Linked DNA regions of Homo sapiens. The protein of the gene in region 3 purifies or fractionates together with the protein of the main gene of each other region. This does not show direct contact. Each region holds a gene or a part of one and is shown on either strand. Other genes may lie near its edges.

The links.
Region 1: the proteins of MAP3K14 (region 3) and RPL14 purify together in Homo sapiens (affinity purification with mass spectrometry; 2 studies listed by BioGRID and IntAct, with this or other methods). This does not show direct contact.
Region 2: the proteins of MAP3K14 (region 3) and NFKB2 purify together in Homo sapiens (affinity purification with mass spectrometry; 6 studies listed by BioGRID and IntAct, with this or other methods). This does not show direct contact.
Region 4: the proteins of MAP3K14 (region 3) and CAD purify together in Homo sapiens (affinity purification with mass spectrometry; 3 studies listed by BioGRID and IntAct, with this or other methods). This does not show direct contact.

What each region holds. Positions count from the first base shown.
Region 1 is NC_000003.12:40,460,331-40,467,352, reverse strand, and holds part of RPL14 (large ribosomal subunit protein eL14), read right to left. Parts: intron 5,947-7,022; coding exon 5,847-5,946; intron 5,746-5,846; coding exon 5,692-5,745; intron 5,415-5,691; coding exon 5,121-5,414; 3' UTR 1-5,120. UniProt on the Homo sapiens protein: Component of the large ribosomal subunit. The ribosome is a large ribonucleoprotein complex responsible for the synthesis of proteins in the cell.
Region 2 is NC_000010.11:102,391,496-102,398,719, reverse strand, and holds the start of NFKB2 (nuclear factor NF-kappa-B p100 subunit), read right to left. Parts: upstream 3,016-7,224; 5' UTR 2,924-3,015; exon of another isoform or gene 2,833-2,923; 5' UTR 2,761-2,832; coding exon 2,740-2,760; intron 2,468-2,739; coding exon 2,386-2,467; intron 2,272-2,385; coding exon 2,231-2,271; intron 1,996-2,230; coding exon 1,897-1,995; intron 1,817-1,896; coding exon 1,665-1,816; intron 1,419-1,664; coding exon 1,312-1,418; intron 1,194-1,311; coding exon 1,035-1,193; intron 740-1,034; coding exon 635-739; intron 509-634; coding exon 423-508; intron 336-422; coding exon 197-335; intron 1-196. UniProt on the Homo sapiens protein: NF-kappa-B is a pleiotropic transcription factor present in almost all cell types and is the endpoint of a series of signal transduction events that are initiated by a vast array of stimuli related to many biological processes such as inflammation, immunity, differentiation, cell growth, tumorigenesis and apoptosis.
Region 3 is NC_000017.11:45,286,021-45,293,042, reverse strand, and holds part of MAP3K14 (mitogen-activated protein kinase kinase kinase 14), read left to right. Parts: intron 1-2,277; 5' UTR 2,278-2,297; coding exon 2,298-2,553; intron 2,554-3,737; coding exon 3,738-3,807; intron 3,808-5,678; coding exon 5,679-5,889; intron 5,890-5,997; coding exon 5,998-6,612; intron 6,613-7,022.
Region 4 is NC_000002.12:27,213,035-27,220,389, reverse strand, and holds the start of CAD (multifunctional protein CAD), read right to left. Parts: upstream 3,022-7,355; 5' UTR 2,839-3,021; coding exon 2,757-2,838; intron 2,514-2,756; coding exon 2,374-2,513; intron 1-2,373. Other genes in the region: ATRAID (all-trans retinoic acid-induced differentiation factor isoform c precursor), read right to left, coding at 3,442-3,546, 3,770-3,867, 4,637-4,758, 4,845-4,916, 4,998-5,069, 7,092-7,213. UniProt on the Homo sapiens protein: Multifunctional protein that encodes the first 3 enzymatic activities of the de novo pyrimidine pathway: carbamoylphosphate synthetase (CPSase; EC 6.3.5.5), aspartate transcarbamylase (ATCase; EC 2.1.3.2) and dihydroorotase (DHOase; EC 3.5.2.3).

The DNA.
Region 1 (7,022 bases), on a different chromosome or scaffold from region 3:
CCAGTTTGAATTATCCCAATCAGCTTTCCTGGTTCTCCAGCTTGCAGATGGTATTTTGTGGGACTTCTTGGTTTCCACAATCTCTTGAGTCCATTCATCCATCCCATTGGTTTTCTGAAGAACTCTAATTTAGAGGCTGACTAGATAAGATCTCCAGAACGTATTAAGAAAAAAGGCAAGTTGCAGAGTATGAAATTTGCTTAAAACAAGCACATATATTTTTATGTACCTATATTACAAACACATTAAAAAATGTCTGCAAGATGTATATGTTTTCCTTTACACAGGGTACTGGAATTGGAAGTGGAGATAATGAAAGGACCCTTTACTTTCAACTGTAATATTTTATTTAAATGTAAATGTATTCATGATTTAGCCTAGATTAAAAAAAAAAATCAGCTAGCTAGAAGAATGAGGTAACTTTTAATTTTAGTACTAAAGGATAAACAGTATTTCACCCAACAGATGAGGGGGGAAAATATGAATTAGAGGACATGCCAATTACTTAGAGATAAGAGGAAGTCAAGACTTTCTGAAAACCAAACTTCCAAATTTTGCCTATACCGCCAGGTTAGTTCAACACAATTCAACCCAAATTACTAAGTACCTAATGTGTAAAAAGAATTGCACTAGGTGTTGAGGATAGATCCTGTCCTCACTTTCACAAGCATCTTATTTGACTCATTTGATCCTTGCCACAATATGAGGCAGGTATCAGGATCCTTGCTTTTTAGATGAGGTTCCCATAAGTAACATAAAGTAATGAGTTTGGGCTGAATGACAGAATTTAAACCTGAATATGACTCTGAAATCAGCCATTTTTTTTTTTTTTTTTTTGATTTTTAGTAGAGACAGGGTTTCACCACATTGGCCAGGCTGGTCTTGAACCCCTGATTCACCTGCCTCAGCCTCCCAAAGTGCTGGGATTAAAGGCATGAGCCACCGTGCCCAGCCTGAAATCAGCATTCTTTTCGTATGCCATCCCCCGTCTCCAATGAGGGTGACTGAACAAGTGTGTAGTTCTCCATAATCAAAGTAGACTTTTATGCACCTGGATATTTCAATAATTTTCTGCTCTCCTTCCCCATCCCCCAACCCAATCCACACTATGCTACCAGACTGACCTTCCTGAAGATTACGCCCTTGCTCAAGTCTTTTTTTTGAGACAGAGTCTCCCTCTGTCGCCCAAGCTGGAGTGCTATGGCGTAATGTCAGCTCACTGCAACCTCCACCTCCTGGGTTCAAGCGATTCTCCCGCCTCAGCCTCCCAAGTAGCTGGGATTACAGGCATGCTCCACCATGCCTGTCTAATTTTTGTATTTTTAGTAAAGACGGGGTTTCACCATGTTGGCCAAGCTGGTCTCGGACCCCTGACCTCAGGTGATCCGCCTGCCTCAGCCTCCCATAGTGCTGGGATTACAGGTGTGAGCCACAGTGCCCGGCCTCAAATCTCTTATCATATGGTCCCACCTTATTAATTTTATTTTCTACTCCTTTTCAGGCATCGTATGCCTCAGTTACTTTCCTAGAGATTCCAAGATTGGAATTTCCAATTTCCACTGTTCTGTATTGCACTGTTTTCTAGGTGCAGCTTGAATACTGCTTCTACCCTGAAGCTTTCTCATCCTCTGAGCACCTCATGGACTGTAGCCAAAGGGCTCTCAAAGCCACAGGCAGTCTGACAAAAGTGCTCTCCCCTTTCCTCCATAAGGAATTACAACCTGTATGTCTGCAAATCTACACTGCCTCATCCCTCCTTCTCAGTGTATGACCTTGCCTTGCTAACTCCAGAGAAATTTCAGAGATAAAGGTGAAAAGTCCTTAATTTCCTAACAGCAAACCTACAGATTTAGTATCTAAACCCACCTTTTCTTCCTTTTCCTCACGTAAAGGACATCTTTCCTCTAAAGCCAATCCTTCCTCCTCTCCCCTAGGATCCATCCCTTCCTGTTTTTCGAAGGGCTAAGTTTCTCTCCTATTAGCTCCTTTCCCAGAAGCATTTGAACATGCCCATCACTCCAGATTTACAAACACAAAACCTCCGAACCCCATATAACATTTCTCCTTTGCTTACTACCCTCTTCCCCTCACTTTGACGATCTCAAGCAAAATTCTTTCCCTAGCTTCCATGTGCCCCTGCTAGTTTCCCACCCCTCATGACTCCTTTCCAACCTCTATTCGTCTCTTGATTGTTGTCATCCTACCCCTGGGGAATCAGTGACCACTTACATATTCATGAATCCCAAGTCTGTCCTGAAACCTCTCCTCCTTGTGTCATTATCACAGCTCTTACCAAGGGAACCAGTCACTGGACTACATATCATGATTAACTACTCTGAAGCGTACCACATAGATGAGGAAACTGGATTTTGACTATGTGCCTAAACTACATAGCTTTCAAGAGGCAGAGCCAGGATTTTAGTATAGATTGTCTGCAGTCTTTGCATATACACCCAGATAGTCTACATGAAAACTAACTCATTTTACCTAGATAAACTTTACCCTGCCTCATGTTCCCTCACAACCAATGAACCAGAGGTACAAACCAGAAACCCTGACACATTGTTTTCTCCCTTATTTCTGCAGTCCAATGCATGATCAAGACCACCTAAATGGCATTACCACTGTCACTTCCTTGGATTACTGCCAAACTTCATACTGCCAACCCGAGCATTCCCAGTCTTGATCCCATAAGATTCAGTCTTAACAGTTCAATGATCTAAATCTGAGATATCACGCCATTTTAAAAAACCCTCAGTAGCTTCCCGTGTTCCCCTACACGATCTAACCACTAACCTACTTCCTTGATGTGGTCCCGAGCCAGTCCTCTACACTATCAGTTCGTTTATTTCCTATCTCGTGTCATTCTTCCCCTTACACCACCTTCTTCTTATTTTAGGTATAGATGCCACTTTCTCTAGACAATTCTCTACCTCCCAGAGTAGAACAGGTAATCCGAAATCATCCATATTTTCCTTATTACACCATACCACTTGCCTATTATCAAGCAAATCAATGTGCTTTTTCCTTTACCCCAGTGACGCCTGAAGCTAGCTTTTGGTTAGGAAACAAATTTATTTAAAATGTATTCCTGGCCAGAAGCGGTGGCTCACGCCTGTAATCCCAGCACTTTGGGAGGCCAAGGCGGACAGATCACCTGAGGTCAGGAGTTCAAGACCAGTCTGGCTGACATGGCAAAACCCCATCTCTAATACAATATTAGAGGGGCATGGTGGTACACGCATTTAACCCCTGCTACTTGGGAGGCTGAGGCAGAACAACTTGAACCTGGGAGGTGGAGGTCGCAGTGAGCTGAGATCGTGCCACTACATTCCAGCCTGGGCAAGAGTAAGGCTCTGTCTCAAAAAAAAAAAAAAAAGTAATCCTGTTTCATGTACAGCTTTGTAGTATTTTTAAATCTATCCAGGATCTTTTACTGCCCCAAATTACCTGTATCTTGTGGTAGAGAGAAACAGAAGTCCAACCTACTATACACAGGATAAGTATCTCTTATCTGAAACACTTAGGACGAGATGTGTTCTGATGTTGGAGTTAAGTGCATATACATGACACTTTGGGGATGGGACCTAGGTCTATACAGGAAATTCATTTATGCTTCATATACATGTACCCTGAAGGTTAACTATTTCTTCCTCAGGGACACTGAATAGTGCTGTGTACCTGTATTTTGACCATAACCCACCATGCGGGTAGGCTAGGGATTTTTAAATTGTAGTGTCATAGCTCAGTTTCAGAGGTTAGAGCTTTTTGGATTAGAAATATGCTCAACCTGCAATTTTTATACTTGCCCTATTTTCCTAGTTTACTTTTTATAAGAAAATTTGCAGGCCGGGCACAGTGGCTCACACCTGTAATTCCAGCACTTTGGGAGGCCAAGGCGGGTGTATCACCTGAGGTCAGGAGCTCGAGACCAGCATGGCCAACATGGTGAAACCCCATCTCCACTAAAAATACAAAAACTAGCCAGACGTGGTGGCACACACCTATAGTCCCAACTACTCAGAAGGCTGAGCAGGAGAACCGCTTGAGCCCAGGAGGCAGAGGTTGCGCTGAGCCAAGATCGTGCCACTGCACTCCAGCCTGGGTGATAAGATCAAGACTCTGTCTCAAAAAAACAAAAAAAGGCCAAGTGCAGTGGCCCATGCCTATAATCCCCCGCTCTGGGAGGCCGAGACAGGCGGATCACGAGGTCAGGAGTTCAAAACCAGCCTGGCCAACATAGTGAAACCCAGTCTCTACAAAAAAAATTAGCTGGGCATGGTGGTGGGCGCCTGTAGTCCCAGCTACCTGGGAAGCCAAGGCAGGAGAATCACTTGAACCCGGAAGGTGGAGGGAGCTGAGATCGCACCACTGCACTCCAGCCTGGGCAACACAGCAAGACTCTGTCTCCAAAAAAAAAAAATAAATAAATAAAATAAATCTGCTAGACTCTTGAGCATCAAGAGGCTGTCACTTTACCTATTTATGGCAAACATATTTGTACAAGGAAAAAAGATGTTCTGAAGCCAAGGTGACCATAAGAAAAAAATGTCACTTGTGTCACTTGGTGTTCTAAGTTATCATGATTTCTCATGACATGATCAATTATGACTGCAATGATTTTGCACTACCTATCCAAGTATGGGCAGAGAGTGAGATTAAAGAACTGATTATTTAGGCCAGGCGCGGCGGCTCATGCCTGCAATCCTAGCACTTTGGGAGGCCGAGGCGGGCGGATCACGAGGTCAGGAGAGCGAGACCATCCTGGCTAACACGGTGAAACCCCGTCTCTACTAAAAATACAAAAAATTAGCCAGGCGCGGTGGCGGGCACCTGTAGTCCCAGCTGCTCAGGAGGCTGAGGCAGGAGAATGGCATGAACCCGGGAGGTGGAACTTACAGTGAGCCGAGATAGCGCCACTGCAGTCCGGCCTGAGCAACAGAACGAGACTCCATCTCAAAAAAAAAAAAAAAAAAAAAGGAACTGATTATTTAATGTTTATTATAATCCTACTATCAATCTGCCTCCTAACTCCAGCCTCAACAGGCTTTAAATCCAAAGGCTTAAATACATTTGTCAACAGGTCAAAAAGAACCTTTATTACTTTTTATGATTGCCACTTATGCTTTCTTGCCAGATGCCTTTGGAGCAGGTGCTTTCTGGGCTGGAGCTTTTTGACCCTTCTGAGCTTTTGGAGCAGGCGCTGCTTTCTGGCCTGTGGCTTTCTGGGCAGGAACCTTCTGGGCTGGAGCCTTTTTACTCGCGGCGGTGATCTTTTTTGCTGGAACTTTAGCAGCAGCAGCAGCAGCAGCAGCAGCAGCAGTACCCTTAGTACCAGGTGCTTTTTTGGGAGAAGCTTTCAGGAGAGCTGCCTTTTGAAGCTTCTTAACTTCATTCTTGATTATTCTGTTCCTCTGAAAATTATCAATGTAAGAAAGCACTTATTGTGTATACATACAATAAAATCCAATTTATGCTGGTTTTAGAAAGGGCATTAAGTAGTCTGTTTCCCTACAACTACATCTGAAGAAAGGTAACAATTCCATAGGGACATCATGAAATACAAATGAAGATAAATTCTCCTTTTTTACAGAAAGCTTCCAAGAAGCTGGCAGCCTGAAATGGGATTTGGCTACTGCTCCCTTATTATTTAAAGCTAAGTTACACAAAAATACAGATCTTAAATCTTACCATTTTCTTTGCCTTCATAACTTTAAAACGATCAAAATCTGTCATCTTGGCTTTCTGTTAAAAAAAAAACAACAAATAAAAATTATCCCTCTCACACTATCTTGAACCCTCCAAAAAAAGAAAGGACCAGAATTCAAATGACCCTAAGTTATTACCCTTTCTCTGGCTTCAATCTTCTTGGCCCATCGTGTGGCTGCCCATTTTGTATTGATGTCTGCCTTCTGCCAGGCTTGTCGGACATACTTCTGGTGGGCACTAGAACGAGCCAAGACCACAGATTAAGAAATCAGCTTTGAAGTCACTCATTATCAAAGACACTTTCTTTGTTCCTTGAAAAGCACTCTTCCTGTTACACAACACCTGGTACACTATGTATTTTACTTATTTTTGTGTTCAGTAAGCCAGAATAGGTTATTAACTTCAAGCATATTTTAATCAAAACTGTAATCCAGTCCCTTTTTTTTTTTGAGAGAGGATCTTGCTTGCCACCCAGGCTGGAATGCAATAGTATGATCATGGCTCACTGTAGCCTCAACCTTCTAGGCTCAAGCCATCCTCCTGCCTCAGCCTCCCAAGTAGCTGGGACTACAGGTGCATACCAGCACACCCAGCTAATTTTTATATTTTTTGTAGAGACAGGGTCTTGCTACGTTGCCCAGGCTGGTCTCCAACTCCTGGGCTCAAGCAACCCTCCACCTTGGCCTCCTGAAGTGCTGGGATTACAGGTATGAGCCACTGCACCCAGCCCAGCCCATTTTATGAATTTAAAAACTACCTCTTGACCAGGCGCAGTGGCTCACACCTGTAATCCCAGCACTTTGGGAGGTCAAGATGGGTGGATCACCTGAGGTCAGGAGTTCAAGACCAGGTTGGCCAACATAGTGAAACCCCATCTCTACTAAAAACACAAAAATTAGCTGGGCGTGGTTGCAGGTGCCTATAATCCCAGCTACTTGGGAGCCTGAGGTTGCAGTGAGTCAAGATTGCGTCACTGCACTCTAGCCTGGGTGACAAAGTGAGACTCCGTGTCAAAAGAAAAAAAAAACCCTCAAAAAAAACACAAAAAACCCACCTCTGACTATATATAATTCCACTCGGGCAGTGGACGTGTTGAAAACCATTCTTTTTTTTTTTCTTTTTTTGAGACAGGGTCTTGCTCTGTAACCCAGGATGGAGAATGCACTGGCGCAACGTTGGCTCACTGTGACCTCTGCTTCCTAGGTTCTAGCAATTCTTCTGTTCCATCCACCCAAATAGCTGGGGCTACAGGAGTACACTACCACACTGGGCTAATTTTTGGACTTTTAGTGGAGACGGGGTTGGCTAGGCTG
Region 2 (7,224 bases), on a different chromosome or scaffold from region 3:
AGATTGAGCCCAGTTATTGTGTCATGCCTCAGGGGCCCTTCCCAGAAGAGCCCTCAGGGCCGGCTCCTAGGAAGCACCTCCTGGGACCCTCGCACTTCTGACTTGGCTCATGCATCCCCACATCTAGCTCTTGGGACCTTCTTCTAGCCCAGCCTGGCCCCCCGCCAGCACCCTGAGGTCCTCAGCCCAGCTCCACCTTCCACCAGAGGGTAATAGGTGAACTGTTTGGAATCAGACACGTCCCCTCCTCGCTTGCGTTTCAGTTGCAGAAACACTGTTACAGGCCGCTCAATCTTCATCTTGTGATAGGGGGGTGTCCGGAACACAATGGCATACTGGGGGGTGCAGGGAGACACAGGGTGTCAGTGAGTCCTTAGCCTAATTTAGCCCCCAGCCCGGGCCCGGGCCCTAGCCCTGGGTACCTGTTTATGCACATCTGTGGGAGAGAAGTCCCCAAAGGCCTGCCATCCATTCTCATCATCCTCATAGAACCGAACCTCAATGTCATCTACAAGGAAAACGGAAGCTTGGCCACAGCTCCCGGTGGAATCTCTGGGGCCATTTACCCTAGAGCTTCCCTGGCCCCAGTCTTATACTCGATGTCCTTGGTGCCCAAAGTGGGCTCCAGTCTCACCTTTCTGCACCTTGTCACAAAGCAGATAAACTTCATCTCCACCCCGCACAGAGCCTGCTGTCTTGTCCATTCGAGAAATCTTCAGGTTTGATGCCCCCGGAGATTCTATGGAGTGGGATATGGATTAGTTGAGATGATGCAATAGCCAAGGCCACATTTAAGAAGCTGGGGGCTTTGTATTCCTTATCTCAGCAACCCCTGGAGCTGCAGGAAACACCCAATATACACATTTACTAAAGACAGAAGCTTCGGGGGGGAAATGACTTGCTCAGGATCACTCAGCTCATATGTGGCAGGGCCAGGTTCTGAAACCTGGGTCTGTTTGACTGCACAGCTTGAGGTCACCCCTCATGCCACCTCTGCCACCAGGCCTGGCACCCCAGGCAATCAGGATACTCACTGCTGTCATGGATGGGCTGGGAGATGACTGGCTTCAGGGGCAGGGAGAAGGAGCCATCACTGGCTCTAAGGAAGGCAGAGAAGCGCAGCCGCACTATACTCAGATCCATCACCTTCTTCAGTTCTTTGGCCTCTTGCTCCAGCTCCCGCTGCTCGGCCTCTGGGCAGTAGGTACATGTGTGACCCCTGGGCTTCTCCCTCCCTGCTCCTTCCATGAGCACCTCCCATGACCCACCCACCCCCTGCACCCATACCCGACCCACCCCCTGCACCCATACCCGTAAGGCCCTGGGGCCTAGAGCGGAGCCGCTGCCTCTGAAGTTTTTGTATCATAGTCCCCATCATGTTCTTCTTAGTCACATGCAGGACACCCAGGTTGTTAAATCTGAGAAGAGAGAATCGGAGGCCTTTGGCCATGCAGTTCTTTCTTCCTGAGGCACCTTTCCCATTGCCAGGGCTCAGCTCAGCCTTACTTCCTCAAGGAAGCCATTGGAGTTTCTACTTAGGCCCTTGGGTTTGGGGCCAACCTACATCTTTCCCCTTGGTCAGATGCTAAGCTCATGGAGGTGGGCTGGGGCCTGGGACTGGCAGACGGGCATACCAGTGGGGGCCAGGCGTAGAGGGCACCTACTGGGCAGTCATGTCCTTGGGCCCCACAGAAACGGCGCAGATCCCCAGCTCCGAGCATTGCTTGCCCACCAGACTGTGGGCATGAGCACGAGGTGGGTCACTGTGTGTTACCAGGTCCACCTCGATCTTGGCTGGTCCCTCGTAGTTACAGATCTAGGAGAGGCAGGGACTGTCAGTCAGGGCCTTGGGCATGCTGTCCACTTAGCCCACCCTCCAGCACCATCCTGGCTCACCTTGACAGTGGGATAGGTCTTTCGGCCCTTCTCACTGGAGGCACCGGGCAGTCCTCCATGGGAGGGGCCTTCACAGCCATATCGAAATCGGAAGCCTCTCTGAAGGTCCAAGGGCATAGTAGCATTGTGATCAGGGAAGACCACCCAGGCCAGCAGTGACCGCAGTGCCTGGTAGTAGCCCTGAACCAAACTACAGCACTCTGATCAGCAGCAGTGACCATCCAATCCCCTGTGGCCTCCTTCGGCAATGGCTCCTCCATGGCCAGCCAGCTACCACTACCCCATTTGTCCCCAAAGCTGAAGCCATTCCACACCCTCCCTTTTGCTCACTCACCTGCTTAGGCTGTTCCACGATCACCAGGTAGGGGCCATCAGCTGGGGACAGAGAGACCTTGCTGAGCCACGATCTCCCAGCCCCTCCCCCAGAGAGAGGGCACATGCTCTCCCTCCCCCGCTTTAGGACTAGGGGAGGTTAGTGAACTTGCTGACCTGTTTCTGGGGCTGGCTCCTTGGGTTCCACAATGGAGGAGTTCAATTTGAAATCATCATATTCAATAATACCATCCAGACCCTGGTTTGGAGACAGACTGGGGGTGGCATCCGACTCTCAGCACCCCCCACAGCCCCACCTCCCATCTCCAAGTCTTCAGTGGTCACTCCCCCCTCCTCCTCAGACCCAAGAGAAAGCTCCTTTTGGAGGCAGAGTTGCAGACAGATGGACAGACTGGCAGGCTGAGAGCATCTGCGAGCATACAGGTGTAAGGCAGCAGAGGGGGCTCGGGCAGACAGGTGGACAGACACGAGGGGCAGCCGGCCGGGTCAGGGGCAGGCGGCATGACTCACTGGGTTGTAGCAACTCTCCATGTCTCTGGGCTAGGCCCGGCTCTGTCTAGTGGCTCCGGCCAGGTTCTGCTTCCCAGAATTTTAGACGCCCGCCTAAAGTTGGGAGGAGTGGCGTGGGGGAGGGGGTCAGATCTAAATGGGGGTGGGCGGGAGATGGGGGCCCAGATTTGGGGGAGGGTCCGACCTCCTCCAGCCGCCTGTCCGGGTGTGGCGGGTGAGATCCGGTGGAGAGCGAGATCCGGAGTTGGGCTTGGCCGGGGAAGGGGCAGGAAAGTTAGAGCAGCTTAGGAAAGTCCCGAAAATACCAAGGGGAGGCGGGGCCGGAGGGGGCGGGCCTGGAAATGACGCCACTGGCCCCGCCCTCGCGACGGGAGGGGCGGGAGGCCCTCGACAGTCTACGGGCTCCCGCTGCTTTTCAGCGGGCAGAGGTCTAGGAGAATCCGGGAAGCCCCGGTGGGGGTTAAGCCCCCTCCTCCCTCCAGGGCAGGGAACAGGAGGGTCTTTCACGGCCGGGAGGAGGCTGGCAGTCTGGGGCCAAGTCCGCCTCCCGCTCCCCTCCCCCGGTCTGGAGCAACCTTGGGATTTTCTGCCAGGAGGGAGGCCACGGCTGATAAACCCCGGGGGCTTTTGGGGGGACATTCCTGCTGTCGGACGGCCTCCCCTTCGAACAGCCTGTAGGCGGGGGCTCTTTCCTGTGGGAGGCCCCGGGGTTCTGCCCCGAGAACGCGATTCTGGGGCTGCGGGAAAAGTGTCTCCTCCTCGGAGTGGGCTCTTTTCTCTCTCTCCCAAACCTCACAACAGCAGCTGGTCCCACACCGCACCGGTTCTGGGCGCGCAGGCGACAGGGAGATCTCTGCACGCTCCCCCCCCCCCCCCCCCACCTAATACAAGAGTGTGTCTCCATCACAGCTCCACAAGTGTGTTTCGGCTGTAGTGCTTGGTTGCATGTTGTGTGTCCATGGCGTCAACATGAGTGTGCAAGCGAGCATGTGTGTAGATAGGTGAATCCCGAGCTTCTCAGTGTGGGTGTGTGTCAGCGCCTGTCTTGATGTACGGACACGGGTGAGCGTATCTTGAGTTTGTGCGTGAAGGGTGTGGGTGCAGGCACCAGTGCACCGGTGGGCACGTCTCCGTGTGCATGTGTGTGCGAGTGCGACTGCACGGACGCTGCCGTGTGTGCGCCAGCACAGGTACAGGTGTACGTACGGGTCCGCGTATCTTTGTACAACGGTGTCGACGTGGATCCGAGTGTCGTCGCCTGCGCGCCCTTTCCGGCTGTGTGCAGCTGCTGCTCTCCAGCCCCAGGCGCTGTCCGCTAAAGGCCCTCCTCCCTCTTTTCTCTTGTCCCGGCCACCCAGGGGTCTGAATCCAGCCACTCACCGTGGCGGCGGCTCTGGTTGCGGCTTCTCTCCGCGCCCGACCCACCTGGGACCGGTCGCGACACCTCGCCTGCCAGCAGGGCTCAGGGCCGGGAAAGCCCCTTCTCGGCCCCCCGGAGGGGGGAATTCCCATGACGTTTCCGTGCGTCACGCCTCGCGCCCTTTTTCATTGGCTGAAAGTTTAACTCTGGACTGGCGCAGCCAACCCGGAGCGACTCGGGCGCGCCCCTGAGAGGGGACAGGCTCACTCAGGGCGGGGAGCGGGGTGACAGGACACCAGGCGCGAGTTCGGCCGGCCAGGGGACCGCCGAGAAGGTACCCGCTGACCCAGCGCCACCCCGGGCCGGGAGCTTCCGCTGCCTCTCGGCTTTGGCTGCGCCTAACGCTTGGCTTTCTCTGAAGCGGGGGATCCCCAGGGGGAAGCCGACGGCCCCAGCCCTCGGGGCCCCCACCCTGAGCGGCGCGCTGCCGGGAAGTTAGCGGAAGAGGAAGGAAGTTATTCTTGCGGTCGGTCCCGGGCGCCCTCTGGCGGCCTCCCTGGGCCCGCGAGTAGACTCCATTCGGCCCCGGCCCCTCTCTCGCTCCGTCTCATCAGCCTCAAGGCTCCGGGAGAGACAGTCCGGACCTCGAACTTTTTTAGAAGTGACAGGTTCCCAGCGGGCCAGGGCTCAGGAGCTCTGCTCAGGAGAAGGGAAATGAAGTGTTTATCCACCAAGGAGATCTGGAATATTAGAACTGAAAAAGGCATCCAGAGTTTAAACAGCTCAAATTTCCACCGATGTGGGAAATCGCCTCTTTTTTTTAGTCTCAGGCTGGAATGCAGTGAGGGGATTTTGGCTCACTGCAACCTCTGCCTCCCGGGTTCAAACCATTCTCCTGCTGCAGCCTACCGAGTAGCTGGGATTACAGGCGGCCACCACCACGCCCGCCTAATTTATGTATTTTTAGTAGAGTTGGGGGTTTCACCACGTTGGTCAGGCTGGTCCCGAACTCCTGACCTCAGGTGATCCGCTGGCCTCCGCCTTCTAAAATGTTGGAATTACAGTCGTGAGCCACTGCGCACGGCCTATTTATTTATTTATTTATTTATTTATGTTTTTGAGACAGTGTCTTGCTCTGTCACCCAGGCTGGAGTACAGTGGCGTGATCATGGCTCACTGCAACCTCGAACTCCGGGGTGCGCCGATTCTCTGACTCTCCTGAGTAGCTGGGGCTACAGGTGCACACCACCATACCTGGCAAATTTTAAAATTTTTAGTGGAGATGGATCTCACTGCGTTGCCTAGGCTGGTCTTAAACTCCTGGGCTTAAGTGATCCTCCTACTTTGGCCTTCCAAAATGCTTGGATTTTGGATTACAGACGTGAGCCACTGTATGCTGCCGAATTGCCTCTTATAGACCTTCCAATTTCCACCTGAACACTTCTAGAGGCAGCGAGGTCAGGACAGAAATTCACCAAGCACGGAGTACATGACTGGACCTCTCTCTGGTCAGTAGCGTTTCTCCTTAGCAGGTGCCATGAGTAATCTCCCTGCCTGGAGTCCTCCTCCCTTAGGCTTATGGTAGAACATAAACTATCTCGGGTCTTTCCTGCAGCTTGCCCCAGACGTTTTTAAGAACAGAATCACAGGCCTGCACTGGCACTAAGTAAAGAGAGACTATTATGGCTCTCGATTTGGGCTGTTTCCTATTACTTCCCCACCCCTCTTCATCTTGCCTGCAAATATAGTGTCCTAGTTGCTAGGTTCGGGTACTTTAGAAGTTCTTATTCTCCCTCCCAACAACCCTAGGAGGTGAATATTACTTTTACTGATGAAGAAATTAAGGCTCAGAGAGGTGGAGTAACAACCAAACACACAGCTAGAAAGGGACAGAGCCAGGATTCAAACCCAATCTGTTGACTCCAGGATGAAGCTTTCTCCCCTAAGTTTATATAAAACAAAGCAGCCCTTTCCACCTTACTGTGGGCCTCTCAAACAAATATCATAAGATTCTGCCAAACAATTTGCTGAAATCCAGATATGTTGTCTACTACGTTTCTCTGGTAAGTCAGATTCCTAACCTTAAATTAAAATGGACTAAGGCCGGGCATGGTGACTCACACCTGTAATTTCAGCACTTCAGGAAGCCAAGGCTGGTGGATCACTTGAGCCCAGGAGTTCGAGACCAGCCTTGGCAACATGGTGAAACCCCGTCTCAAAAAATTGAAGGGGTGGGTTGCCCCTCCACACCTGTGGGTGTTTCTCGTGAGGTGGAATGAGAGACTTGGAAAAGAAAAAGACACAGAGACAAAGTATAGAGAAAGGACTCGAGGAACCAGCATTCAGCATATGGAGGATCCCGCCAGCCTCTGAGTTCCCTTAGTATTTATTGATCATTCATGGGTGTTTCTCTGAGAGGGGGATGTGTCATGGTCACAAGACAATAGTGGGGAGAGGGTCAGCAGACAAACAAAGGTCTTTGCATCATAGACAAGGTAAAGGATTAAGTGCTGTGCTTTTAGATATGTATACACATAAACATCTCAATGCTTTACAAAGCAGTATTGCTGCCTGCATGTCCCACCTCCAGCCCTAAGGCGGTTTTTCCCTATCTCAGTAGATGGAACGTACAATCGGGTTTTATACCGAGACATTCCATTGCCCAGGGACGGGCAGGAGACAGATGCCTTCCTCTTGTCTCAACTGCAAGAGGCATTCCTTCCTCTTATACTAATCCTCCTCAGCACAGACCCTTTACGGGTGTCGGGCTGGGGGACGGTCAGGTCTTTCCCTTCCCACGAGGCCATATTTCAGACTATCACATGGGGAGAAACCTTGGACAATACCTGGCTTTCCTAGACAGAGGTCCCTGCGGCCTTCCGCAGTGTTTGTGTCCCTGGGTACTTGAGATTAGGGAGTGGTGATGACTCTTAACGAGCATGCTGCCTTCAAGCATCTGTTTAACAAAGCACACCTTGCACAACCCTTAATCCATTTAACCCTGAGTTTGACACAGCACATGTTTCAGAGAGCACGGGGTTGGGGGTAAGGTCATAGATTAACAGAATCTCAAGGCAGAAGAATTTTTCTTAGTACAGAACAAAATGGAGTCTCCTATGTCTACT
Region 3 (7,022 bases):
ACCTCTTCCCTCAGGAGCCTGTTGACCAGGGAGGACCTTAGTGTGCCCTCCTGCATTTGCCTGTAACCCAGGAGCTTGGGGAGTGGGCATCATAGCCTAAAGAACCTAGGGTCTGGATCCTGGCCATGTCCTGTCACACGTGGGTTGGGTGACCTTGGGCAAGTCTCCACTGAATTAGGCCTCAGCTTCTTCAAATAGAAATGAGGAGGTCACGCTCACATCGAGCTCCCTGTGAGCATTCCCTACTGCTGTTAGGTTTGGAGACTTTTTGGTCTGTTCTTAAGATCTCATTTCCCCTGGTAAAGAGGCTGAGAACAGTGGGATCGGCTCTGGGCTTAGGTCAGTTTCTTTTTTGGAGGTAGAGTGGGGTGGGGAGGTGTGAGGTGGGATGAAAGTACAGTTACAAGAAGCATAGCCAGCCTTGAAGGGCTTTTGCCTAATTGGATGTCAGAACACCCCTTAGACTTTTTTTTTCTTTTAGAGACAGGGTCTTATTCTGTCACTCAGGCTGGAGAATGCAATGGTGCAATCTCAGCTCACTGCAGCCTCAACCTCCTGGGCTCAAGCATTCCTCCCACCGCAGCCTCTAGAGTAGCTGGGACTACAGGCCAGCTACCCCAGCTAATTTTTTGTATTTTTTTGTAGAGACAGGGTTCCACCATGTTGCCCAGGCTGATCTTGAACTCCTGGGCTCAAGTAATCCTTCTGCCTCAGCCTCCCAAAGTGGTGGGATTACAGGCATGGGCCACCATGTCCGGCCCCCTCAGACTTCTTAAGATCCTCAGGTAACAGTGAGGCCACCCATTCAGCCTCCTCAGCATCTGGCGTTTGGTACCAAATCCAGGCATCCTTGCAGGAAGCTGGAGCTGCTCCAAGTTCAGAGCTAGGAGACCCTTAAAGACAGAGATGCAAGGAACTAATCAATAGTGAACAACAAACCCCACCACACCCGCCAGCCAAGCTGGCAGAGCCTTTCATAGCCATCGAGGTGGGAAGACCAGTGAGGCAGATTCAGAAGGAGGAATGCTTCAACCTAGTACCTCAGCTTCCCACCATCTCATTCAGTCCTCAGGCCTCACAGGGCAAAAGGCCAGAGGCCTTAGAGTTCAGCTTCAGATGGTGTACCTGTCTGCCCCAGAAGCAGAGAAGTGATCCAGGGTTCACAGAGTTATAGCAAGGAAGATGATTTCTGCTGGTAGCAGCTTTAAGACAAACCTACCATCAGAGAGCAGTTATTAAAAATCTGTCTGCATTTGGGACCTTCTCAGGCTGTTTCTAAAGCAAGTCATGCCTGAGAGGGGCCCTGCCCTTTAAAAACTCCCAGCCTTTAAAAAGGTTTCCAAATGGTAACAGTCTCAAATCAGTGCTCTTCTCTTTTTTGCCAATTCCAGTCTGCAGGCTGTTTGCACAGATTGTTGGCAACTCTGGGTTGCTCTTCTTTGCAGCTTCCTAGGGCTGGGCAAGACAGAACCCAGAGAGACGTGAATTCTTATGCTTTATTCTTTATTTCTAGAGGTATAGGTTCGTGTTAGGGCCTTGAATATAAATTCTACTCCTGATGTTGCCTGAATGAAAAATGATACCTAGAAGTTTTCAGCCAATGAGTTTGGACATTAGAGGAGGAAGCATGTTAGTTCCTTCTGGAGAGCCACAAACAGACGCATTGGGCAAGGAACCACGTGCTGAGCACCATTTGCATGCTGAGTTTTAGACTTTGTAGGACACACACACACACACACACACACAGATATCTACCTCCTACTAGGGAACAGAATAGAACCTTGCTTCTCTCCACTTGGAGAAAAGTCGCTGTGGATGGTGTGTGCCAACAGGTCCTCTCCAAAGGCTTATGTGGGGTCAGTGAGGCCATGGTTTTGGAGTCTGGGATTCACCACCCTGTCCTGGGGAAACAAAGTTTGCCATAAAACAACAGAAAAAGATCGAGCCATCATAAAGGCAAGAAAGAGCCAACCCAGACATTTGTGCCACAGCTCTCCTAGAGGGAGTGGGCTGGCATCCTTGCTGGACACAGTGAAGGAGGCTGTTTATGTTGTGGTACTGGGAGGACCGGGGGACTGTGCCGTGTGGAACGTGTAGCTGTTGAGAGGTGGACTCTGTTACCATTGAGGATGTTTGGAGGATGAGTATGTGTGGCAGAGGCACACATAAACAGGCAGAGACCCTTTGCCCCTGCCTTTCTCCCCCAACCCAAGGCTGACCTGTGTTCTCCCAGGTCTGGGATTCTAAGTGACCTGCTCTGTGTTTGGTCTCTCTCAGGATGAGCACAAGCCTGGGAGATGGCAGTGATGGAAATGGCCTGCCCAGGTGCCCCTGGCTCAGCAGTGGGGCAGCAGAAGGAACTCCCCAAAGCCAAGGAGAAGACGCCGCCACTGGGGAAGAAACAGAGCTCCGTCTACAAGCTTGAGGCCGTGGAGAAGAGCCCTGTGTTCTGCGGAAAGTGGGAGATCCTGAATGACGTGATTACCAAGGGCACAGCCAAGGAAGGCTCCGAGGCAGGGCCAGCTGCCATCTCTATCATCGCCCAGGCTGAGTGTAGGGGCCTAGGGTTGTTGTGGGCACGGGGCAGGTGGGTGGGCCTGCAGGTGGGTAGCTGGGCCCAGGGGTTCCCTATGGAGGAGAGAGGTCTGTGTCACTGCTAGATAAGATTCTCATGAGACACAACCAGAGGTCTGTGCCGAGAATCATGGAAAGTGGGGTTGTAAAAGTGCACAGATGGTGGATGTGGCAAGGGGAGACTGTGCCCATCGTGACTGGAGCAGGGGAAGAGAGGTAACAGACGAGCACTCGGGACTCTGCAGAATCATCAAGCAGGCCATCAACCTTCTGCTGTGACCTTGAGCAGCCCCAGTGTCTGGAGAGGCTCCAGACAGGAAAGGCCAGGTCTCCTGGAAAGCCCCACTGGGGCCTGTAGGGCCTTCACCATCTTCCACCTAGAGGTGGCCCCACCCCCAGGAATGAGCACCGTGCTCTTGAGCCTGCTGGGCCAGTCCTGGGGCGGCAGGCTGCTGCAGGGTGAGACCTAGTCTGGTCCTTTCTTCTTCTACTCATGATACCTTATGATGACTAGTAATGGTGGCTTCCCTTGGAGACAGAAACTCCCACGAGGCCTGGGTAGGGCCGGGAGTCCTCTCTCTCCAACGCCTTCCCTCAACCCGGGAGGCTTCTTGGGGTGGAACCTGGAGAGCTGGACAGCCATGCTGTCATTTCTCCACACGCATACATCCTGCCCTCGTCTCCCACTTCCTCCTGGTTGGTTTTTGAGGAGAGATGAGAGAATAAAAACTAAAATACAGAGAGTGACATAATAATTGTTTTAAAAAAATACACATATATCCACACTTATATGTACACACATATATAAATACCTAATAGCTGTTTTTCCTATGAGCCAGGCACTGTGTTGAGCATTTTCTGTAGATCATCTCACTTCAGCTTCATAGGAAGTGAGGCGGGCGCCCTGTGATCCCCATAATATAGGCTTGGCTATTTCAGAGCAGGTGGCTGAGGCCGTGGTCTGCTCTTGACCAGTAAGCTGAGAAGCTGGGGAGAGACAGTGCGGGAAGGAGGCATTGGTGGGGAGGTGACTGCCAGACAGGGGTTGTCTGGAAAGGAGGGGAAGGAGAGGCGCCAGAGGGGATCTCTGTAAAATGTCTCTCCCCTAAGTGCTAAATTCCTATTTTTTCTCCTCTCTGCTAATCCAACTCCTTTTGCTTTAGGTGAGAATAGCCAAGAGTTCAGCCCCACCTTTTCAGAACGCATTTTCATCGCTGGGTCCAAACAGTACAGGTAAGCAGGGGAGACAAGCCTGAGTGGGAAGGTGGGGACTGGACCCAGCGCCCTCGTCCCCAGCACTTGCCTGGGCCGCTCCTGCTGACCCCGGGCTCCCTCCCTCAGCACCTGTGGTTCAGCTCCTGGAACTCACCCAGGCTTTCCTGGCTGAGCCGCTCTCTCAGCCAAATAAGCTTTTCAAAGGCTTTTCACAGCTTGTGGCTGACTGCCTCTGGGCCACATCAACTTGACATTTTATTTTTATTCTCCTCAGAGTCCTTAATGCACCCCCTCGTTTCCCATCAACAGGGAGGGTGCTGGGAACAGAAGCTGCTTCCCACTCTTGCGTGACCGTGAGCGCAGGCCGGGTTGGTGGGGGGGGCCTTCCACTGTCCTCTATGGGAGAAACCTGCTGGTGCCTTTTCTCCTGGGAGATGCACCGAGTAGGGATGCGGGCGGTAGAAAAGGAGGGGACAGATAGACTTGGTGGCCCGGTAGAAAGGAAGCCAGGGTGGGGCTGAGTCTGTTCCCAGGCTCTGCATTCCCCCACAGATGATTTTTTGAAACAAGAGTTCAAGTGCTGGGCACAATGGCTCTCACCTATAATCCCAGCACTTTCTGAGGCCGAGGCAGGTGGATCACGAGGTCAGGAGATCGAGACCATCCTGGCCAACATGGTGAAACCCCGTCTCTGCTAAAAATACAAAAATTCCCTGGGCATGGTAGCGCATGCCTGTAACCTCAGCTACTCAGGAGGCTGAGGCAGGAGAATCGCTTGAATCCAGGAGTCGAAGGTTGCAGTGAGCCGAGATTGTGCCACTGCACTCCAGCCTGGTGACAGAGTAAGATTCTGTCTCAAAAAAAAAAAAAAAAACAAGAGTTCAAGCTAGAAACAGCTCCTTCCCCTATCACCAGGCAGGTTTTGTATCATTGGAGTTTGGAACCTGCTAGTGATAAGATTGTGGGGAGGGCAGCTGGCTGCCTTGGAACCAAGAAATGCTCAGTTTGGTGGGATTCCTTCTGCTGTCCTGGGTGCCTTTTGGCCCAGGGTAGGAGCCTCTGATAGACACACTTCTTTCAGCTGTCCAAGAGAAGCCTGTAGGCCTCCAGTGGTCCCCAGGACTGCCATGAGTCTGCCTTCTCCATGGGGGCAGAAGATGAGGCCAAGGGAGGGTGGCTGAGGCCATGATCTGCTCCACAGCTGTTCTGCAGCAACCCATCTGTTGCCGGGTCCTTTAATACTTGGCAGGGATCCCAGTCCAGTTAGAGCCATGGCAGTGATGAGCCCCGAGGCCAGCAGAGAAGGGCAGGCTCCCCAGTACCAGGCAGCAGCCCAGGCTGTTCACCTTCAACAGCAGCCAGGGACCCCCAGGAACTGTGAGAATGGAGGTGACCAGCCTTACCTGTTCCTCCATCCGGAGGCAACAGAAACAAGCTCTGCTCAGTCAGAGCTGAGAGGCCTGCCATGAGCGTGGCCCCCTCCTAGGAACTCTCCAGGGGCAGCTCACCTTGGAGAGCAGTGAGCGAACCGTGTCTGCTCCCCTGACTCTCCCCAAGAAGTGCTGAGTCTGTACCCCATCACCATAGTAACAAGCACAGCTTCTCGGCAGCTTGCCTTGGGGCCAGACACTGAGCTGGGCTTTTTAAATGAACTAAATTATTGAAACTTCATTTCCACCCTGTATGGCAGAAAATACCAAACCCATTTTATAAGTGAGATAAGTGAGAAAACAGGTTCCTTGGGATTTAGAAACCTTGCCGCATTCACACAAGGAATGGCAACCTGGGATTTGACCTTGGATCTGCAGGAGTCCAGATACAAGTGTCTGGACCAGTCCATCTTCCTGCTTCCTCGTGCTCAATATGCAAATCTGTCCCTTTTGTGACAGCCAGTCCGAGAGTCTTGATCAGATCCCCAACAATGTGGCCCATGCTACAGAGGGCAAAATGGCCCGTGTGTGTTGGAAGGGAAAGCGTCGCAGCAAAGCCCGGAAGAAACGGAAGAAGAAGAGCTCAAAGTCCCTGGCTCATGCAGGAGTGGCCTTGGCCAAACCCCTCCCCAGGACCCCTGAGCAGGAGAGCTGCACCATCCCAGTGCAGGTGAGACCCTCCACCCACTGCCCAGACCCCAGGTTCATGGGGCCTTGAAATTGGAGCCTGTCCCTGGGCCCTGGCCCTCTGTGCTGATAGCTGTGTTTCCCCCCGCAGGAGGATGAGTCTCCACTCGGCGCCCCATATGTTAGAAACACCCCGCAGTTCACCAAGCCTCTGAAGGAACCAGGCCTTGGGCAACTCTGTTTTAAGCAGCTTGGCGAGGGCCTACGGCCGGCTCTGCCTCGATCAGAACTCCACAAACTGATCAGCCCCTTGCAATGTCTGAACCACGTGTGGAAACTGCACCACCCCCAGGACGGAGGCCCCCTGCCCCTGCCCACGCACCCCTTCCCCTATAGCAGACTGCCTCATCCCTTCCCATTCCACCCTCTCCAGCCCTGGAAACCTCACCCTCTGGAGTCCTTCCTGGGCAAACTGGCCTGTGTAGACAGCCAGAAACCCTTGCCTGACCCACACCTGAGCAAACTGGCCTGTGTAGACAGTCCAAAGCCCCTGCCTGGCCCACACCTGGAGCCCAGCTGCCTGTCTCGTGGTGCCCATGAGAAGTTTTCTGTGGAGGAATACCTAGTGCATGCTCTGCAAGGCAGCGTGAGCTCAGGCCAGGCCCACAGCCTGACCAGCCTGGCCAAGACCTGGGCAGCAAGGGGCTCCAGATCCCGGGAGCCCAGCCCCAAAACTGAGGACAACGAGGGTGTCCTGCTCACTGAGGTAACTAATCCCCCGGCACCTGTATATGTCCCTCTACCAGCAACCTGGGGGATGCTTTTCTCTCTTTATCAGAGTCACTCTTGCCTGTGGTGACAAATCAAACAGTAGGACAGTGCTCATTGTGGATGAAAAGTATCATCTCTTATTCCGCCAATCTCACTTCTCACAGCCTTTTTAGCGTCTTCTGTTCTGAGTTCTTCTGGTTGGTCACCTCCTGCTTGCTGAATGTGGGCACTGCATTAATAGTACACATGCTGAGGACAAGGGGAATCAGCCAGGAGCCACTGGAGATGTTATCATGGCCCCCAGAGACGGAAGATGAGGATGGGACCTGTTTTCACCACCCACCTCCTTCCCTTTTTCCTCTTGTTAACTTCCCAAATAATTTTATAACTTTAAATGATTTTATC
Region 4 (7,355 bases), on a different chromosome or scaffold from region 3:
AGTCATGAGCTACCGCGCCCCGCCTCTTTCTTCCTTTATCTAAAACTGAAATCACAAATCCTTTCTCTGTGAAGCCCCTCCCACTCACCCAATACAGCTTGTGCCTCCATCTTAGAGCTGTTTTAATACTTTATTTCCTCTCTTGCTATTTACGTCATATGATGAATATGTATTTGTGTCTTTGTCACGAAACAGAGAACTCAAGAGCAAGGCACATGGTGTCAGTCAGACATTTATTGAGGTGCAGGCATTGCAAAAGATGCTGAGAAAAGAGCAATGAGCAAAAAAAGATGAGGTTCCTGTCTTCATGATGTTTATTTCTGACTTAGGGAGCTAGAAAACAAGGTAACACCCATATAAATATTAATTATAGAGTGTGATTAAAAACTGAGTAAGATAGGGAGGTACAAAATACCCCATTACCAAATAAAAAACAAAGGTTCAGGGCACAATACTAAGCATGCCTCCCAAACTTCATTTGGGATTATTTAAAAAAGAAAAGGCCAGGCGCGGTGGCTCACGCCTGTAATCCCAGCGCTTTGGGAGGCCGAGGTGGGCAGATCACCTGTGATCGGGAGTTCAAAACCAGCCTGACCAACATGGAGAAACCCTGTCTCTACTAAAAATACAAAATTAGCTGGGAATGGTAGCCCATGCCTGTAATCCCAGCTACTCGGGAGGCTGAGGTGGGAGAATAGCTTGAACCCGGGAGGCGGAGGTTGCAGTGAGCCAAGGTTGCCCATTGCACTCCAACCTGAGCAACAAGAAAGAAACTCTACCTCAAAGCAAAATAAAAATAAAAAAAAATTAAATAAAAAAAGATAACATACAAGCCTGGGCAATGTGACAATACCCGGTCTCTACAAAAAATACAAAAAAAGTAGCCAGGCATGGCGGCAGGTGCCTGTAGTCCCAGCTACTTGGGGGGTTGAGGTGGGAGGACTACTTGAGCTCAGGTGGCAGAGGCTGCAAGTGAGCCATGATTATGCCACTGCACTCCAGCCTGGGTGACAAAGTGAGACCTTGTCCCCAAAAAAAAAACAAAAACCATAAACTTGTTACTCAATAGATAAGCGTTTAATAGCTACATAGAAACAGAAAGTTTATGTGGGAGGGATCAGCATATTTAAACTGCATTCAGCTGGGTGATGAACAGTTTAAGGAACCTGCATTCTGAGACTGTCCAGGGATCTGAAGGATAGTTTGGCAGAACCCTCCCTGGCCAGGTGGAGTAATCCATTTATATGTGCGAGTGGCTCCAAGAGGCCTTTCCCACCCTGATCCTAATCAGGCCTCAATTTTGTAGTTTTATAAACTCAATTTAGTCAGTGTGTCTAGAGTTGACAAAGGTGATGACTGACAAAGGTTAACCAAATTCACAAGAATTCACTATCAACTAGAATGCAGTGTATTTGTAGGTTTGTGATGAACCTAGAAATTCTTTTCCAGGAAGAACAACATGTACGTCCTTTATCCGGAGCTCACTCTCCCCAGCGTCAGGGTGGCTGGGAAGGCAAATTAAGAATTAAAGGCTTACACCTGCAGTGAGGCCAAACAAATTTTGAGAGATACTACTCTAGGCCAGATTGACTTCCTCTATTACCTTAATTACTATATGTTGGGTTTTTTTTAATGCTTGAACTGTCAGAGGGCAACTTAGTTTCCAAATTTCAGAGGTGAAGGAATAGGGGAAACCTCACTGTAGGAAGAAACTCAGTTTTCTCACCTAGAGGTAAGAACACAACTGAAAAGCAGAGAATCAGACGAGGCCATGTCAGTAGGTCTAGAAGATAATGTCACTGGTTTTGTAGGTAAACTGGCACTCACTGTCACAGAGAAGTATGTGACCCTAGTTTCCAGTCTCTTTCCACTAATTTATGTAGTCCTAAAAAGCACTGCTCCCATCTGACTCTGCTGCTAAAAAAAAACCTTCAATGGATCCTTTACCAAACTAAGCTGACTCTGCTTTGGCTTCAGGTCCCTCCATGCCCACCGGATTTAACTTATCTGCAGGCTTTTTTCTCCTGACTTCTGCATGCCTAACAAGTTGGACAAGGCTGTTCCCTTACACCTCTTTTACTTTTCCTTGATCCATGCCTTCACTACATACAGAATGCTTTCAGCTATACCTGGAGCCTTGATGCCCTTAACAAAGGCGGTAGCTTTTTCCTGAGGCCTCCAACACTCTGTGCCTCCCAAGGCACTTAACAACCCCTAACTACAGTTACTAGTGATCTTAGTCCTTGACTTTACTACTTCAGTGGGTATGTTTTCTGCAGGATGCCCAGCAGGGTGTCAACGTCTCCTACTTCACTAATAGTTAACAATTACTGACTTGAAAAGGAATGTAGAGAAAGCACTGGGTGTGGCTACCTTGCAGAGACCGAACTCATCCATTTCATCTGGGGGGATGCCATAGTTGCCGATCAGAGGATAGGTGAGCACTAAGATCTGTGCCTTGTAGGAGGGATCAGTGAGGGCCTCGGGGTAGCCGACCATGCCGGTTTGAAACACTGCAAGAAAGAAGCAGGGCTGGGCTCCGGTAGGGCACCCTTCGGAACACTCCCCGCGCGATGAGCACGCCCCAGTGGAGGCTGCCTTGGTCGCGAGGGGTTTATGGCGCTGGGGCCCATGGGCACCGAATGGGGGAAGGGGGTACGCTGGCGGGAAAATGGCGGGGTCTGGACGGGGAAGGTTGGGAGGAGAGGCGCATCACAGAGTGGGATAAGGTCTGCAGCCTAACCGGGCTTGCTTACCCACTTCCCCGGCAGTCGACACGGCGGCCCCAAAGGGCTGGCCCCGCAGGACCGACCCGTCCTCCAACACTAGGGCCGCCATGGGAAGGGAGCTCAGAGGCGGGGGCGAGTACGGAGAAGCGGGAAGGACTGCAAACTCCACTGGAACCACGTGAGGACGGCGCGCCGGAGTCGGTCCACGTGGCTAACGGCGCGGGGCGCTGGAGAGAAGCCGGGCGCGGCAGCGTAGGAGCCTCGGGCGCGCTTGGCGGCAGCAGCAGAGACTGCGGCGGCGCGGACACAGGCGGCGTGAGGGGCGGGGCCGGGCACGTAAGGGGCGGGGTCCGCGGAGCCACGGGGAGTGGGCCCCCGTGGTCTCCGCACTGCAAAACCGGGGGAAACCTGAAAAAACCGGCTGCCCTAAAGCAGTCCCTCCCACCCCAAGCAAGAAACACGTAAAGGCAGGGCGCCTTTCCTTAAAAAGAAAGAGAGGAAAAAAAAAGAAAAAAGTGTTTATTATAGGCAACAACACCAATGGGAACTGGTATTTGTCTACACCAAGGGAGTGCAATTTTTCATCTTCCAATGGCGGCCTCAACCTTGAGGCGAATCCACTGGCGAAAGATGCCTTTCTAGGAAGCAGAGCTCCCTGACTGGGCTAAGATAGTTCAGATTGATCTTAGGTCAATGGTAAGACCTATGTAGTTCATGAAGTCTTGGCTTTTCGGCGCTGGGTCGCCCAAAGCAGAATGGAGACGGATAGAGTGGTGGCTCCCAGAATCCCGAAGAACATAAGCAGTGAGAACGAGCCCTGTGAACAACAGACCAAAAAACACCCCCATACAACGTTACACGGAGGGCCACATCCTAACACCTAGTTCTTTCCTAATATACCTATCACTTTGTCTAGGGCAATTCTATAGTTTTCCACCTATAGGAAATTTGTATCAGCTCCTGGTCTTGTGGCTCTCCTTTCTGAGAAGACTTGCTCTATGCATTCCTTGTATCCCTAGTTAGACGGCCTAATTCCTCACCTGGCGCATACACTTGTATCCATGGAAACCATCAGCACAAACACACTGCAAAAGACCTGGACCATCAGGTACACAAGATCCATTCTCAGGACACATTTCTGGAGGCCAGAGAGAAATAGAGAACATCACTTTATCCATTTCATTAGGCATATTTCTCAATTATCTGTTTCAACTTAGATTCTCTCAATCATTGCTAGGATAAAGGAAGAAGAAAGAAAATTACAGATAAAAACAGTAACAATAATGTCAGGCCTCTGAGCCCAAGCTAAGCTATCATATCCCCTGTGACCTGCACGTATACATCCAGATGGTCTGAAGCAACTGAAGATCCACAAAAGAAATGAAAATAGCCTTAACTGATGACATTCCACCATTGTGATTTGTTTCTGCCCCACCCTAACTGATCAATATACTTTGTAATCTCCCTTACCCTTAAGAAGTTTCCTTGTAATCTCTCCCACGCTTAAGAAGGTTCTTTGTAATTCTCCCCACCCTTGAGAATGTACTTTGTAAGATCCATCCCCTGCCCGCAAAACAGCACTCCTAACTCCACTGCCTACCCCAAAACCTGTAAGAACTAATGATAATCCCACCACCCTTTGCTGACTCTCTTTTTGGACTCAGCCCACCTGCACCCAGGTGAAATAAACAGCCTTGTTGCTCACACAAAGCCTGTTTGGTGGTCTCTTTACACGGACACACGTGAGACAAATAATAGAGTATATCTTAAGATCTTTTCTTTCAAAGGGGTTATAGCCCCAGAACTCTGAATGAAAGGCGCTTAAGCAACTTTGTCTTTCTGATCTAAAGTGGAAAATACAAGGGAGAAAAGACAATTCCCAGAAGTTTGGAGGTAAGACAGCATACCTGGGTCCCCAGTGTTATTGCAAAGGTTCTTTTGCCCTTGACAGATTTGGTTGTCTATATAAGAGGTGATAGTATTCCAGGCATTAATTCCTCCAGGACAGTTGACATGTTGTGGCAGTATCCTATAGAGAAATGTGGTCATAACATGCAAAGTTGCTAAACTCACAGCATCATCCCTCTTTGATTCTCTTCCCATACCCTTACTCACAGAGTCTGGAGCTGAGTAAAGCCACGGAAGGTGTTGGCCAAGTCACCTTTGAGGGGGTTTGCTTGCAGGTCTCTGCAAAGTACACAATGTTAGCACTTTCGCATCAACCTACATTATATTAGCCTTTTGGGTGGGAGGTACCTAACTACTTACATGATGACAGTGGTATGTGCCTGATGAAAGTTTGGACCAGGGTCCTCCAGAGAACAGTTCTGGAGATCCAGCCTGAGGAAATAAAGTAATCAATATAACTGTGTGTTCCTCTTTTTCTTCAGCCACGGCACAGTTTGTATTTGACTACACAACCCCCTTTTCAGCTAATAATTGAACACAGCTGTGTTCAGAGTCACACACTAGGAGCTGTGGTAGACATTTTAATTCTGCATTATCCAATAGAATCGCCACTTGCCACATGTAACTACTTAAATTTAAATTAATGTACCTTAGGCTGGGTGTAGTGACTCACTCCTGTAATCCCAGCACTTTAGGAGGCCAAGCGGGGGAGGATCACTTGAACCTAGGAATTCAAGACCAGCCTGGGCAATATGAATGAGACCCTGACTCTATAGAAGAAAATTAATTTAACCTAAAAATTCAGTGTCTCATTTGCACTAGCCGTATTTCAAGTGCAAATGGAATAACCACGTTAGTAGCTACTGTACTGGTTAGTACAGATACGGAACATTTTCCTTTTTTGAGACAGTCTTACTCTGTTGCCCAAGCTGGAGTGCAGTGGCACGATCTCGGCTCACTGCAACCTCCATCTCCCGGGTTCAAGCAATTCTCCTGCCTCAGCCTCCTGAGTAGCTGAGATTATAGGCACATGCCACCACGCCTGGCTAATTTTTGTATTTTTAGTAGAGACGGGGTTTCACCATGTTGGTCAGGCTGGTCTTGAACTCCTGACCTCGTGATCCGCCCATCTGGGCCTCCCAAAGTGCTGGGATTACAGGCATGAGCCACCGCGCCTGGCTCGGAACATTTTCATAATCACAGAAAGTTCTATCCGCCAGCACTGTTCTAATCGGTTATGCATCTATTGGGAGAAATCTGTGTTTCTTGTCTACATTAGTGAATCTCATATTATGATTTTCAGATCCACAGAGGGCCTTTAAATTAAAAAAAAAAAGTCACATAAATCAAAGTTTTTTTCCACATGTATTTTCTACCACAGATTGGTTGTAAACTGCTGGACATTAAGGATCATGCCACGTTATTTTTTTCTTCAATATCTACTGCTATCCATTCCTTTATTCTACAAATATTTACTGAGTCCCTACAAACTGCAAACACTGGGAGAATGTTAAAAATATGTAACACAGTATTTTGGCCTTTGAGTGGCTTACAATGTAGTTAGAGGAACAAGAGCACTGCCCAAAAATAAAAGCACTGTAAACATTAAATTACAATATAAAAGAAACCACAGGACAGTGTATAAATATATTTGAGTGGACACTAAAGATTACAGGAAGTTTTTAAAAAAGGTATTACTGAATCGCTTGAACCCAGGAGGTGGAGGGCGCGGTGAGCCGAGATCATGCCATTGCATTCCAGCCTGGGCAACAAGAGTGAAACTCCGTCTCAAAAAAATAAATAAATAATAATTTAAAAAAGGTATTACTCTGGAACTTAGTAGTAGTAAATATTCACAAAAGATGTTGGAATTGAAGGATGGATATTTCCTAATTTGGTAGAGGAAGGCAATTTCAGGTATGGAGAGAGGCCTGAACAAAGGTGGAATGCCTTTGAGGGCAGGCAAATCTGGCTGGTGCAGACCATTATGGAGGTTTGAGCGGACAAGTAATTGGAAATAATGTTGGAAAAGTGGGTTGGGACTAGTATGGTACTTAATGGTTTGAATTTTGTCCTGAGACAAAATTTAATACTAAATATAGTATTAAAGCAAGAGAGTGATAATGGAAAATGTTGGTTTTCTAAAAGCTTAATACAGAGAAGTATTTAGGTAGATGAAGGAAAGAAGAGAATGGAAGCAAAACATAACATTTTGAGTTTGAAGTTAGGGTGCACTCAGTAGGAAATGCTTAATAGGAAGCTAGAGGTACCCGTATGTACCTGGAGTGTGGAAAGGTTAAAAAAGACACTAAAGAGATCTAGTTTTGGTAGACATCTGCGTGATGATTACAGCTGAAACCATAATAGGTGGATTCTTTAAATAATATAAGGGTATAAAAGCAGCCAGGCTAAGGAATGGCCTGTATCCAGCATCTAGGGATGTCTTCCCCTCACCCCAAGATGGTGCCCTTCTGATTCAGGCAGCAACGGGCATGCAGCATTAGCTCTCGTGTCGTTTTACAATAAAAGGCCACTTTTGACAAATTTTGCACGCTCCCTGGACATTGGGTGCATATCTGCAGAAGAGAAAGAAACATTAGAACTCCAGAAAGAAAAGCCAAGAAAAGAACAAACGGCGATCAAGAATTAACTGCCAGTACACGTTTCCAGAATTCCTCTAACACGGGGCCGATAAATGGATAAACGGCTCGTGTCCCA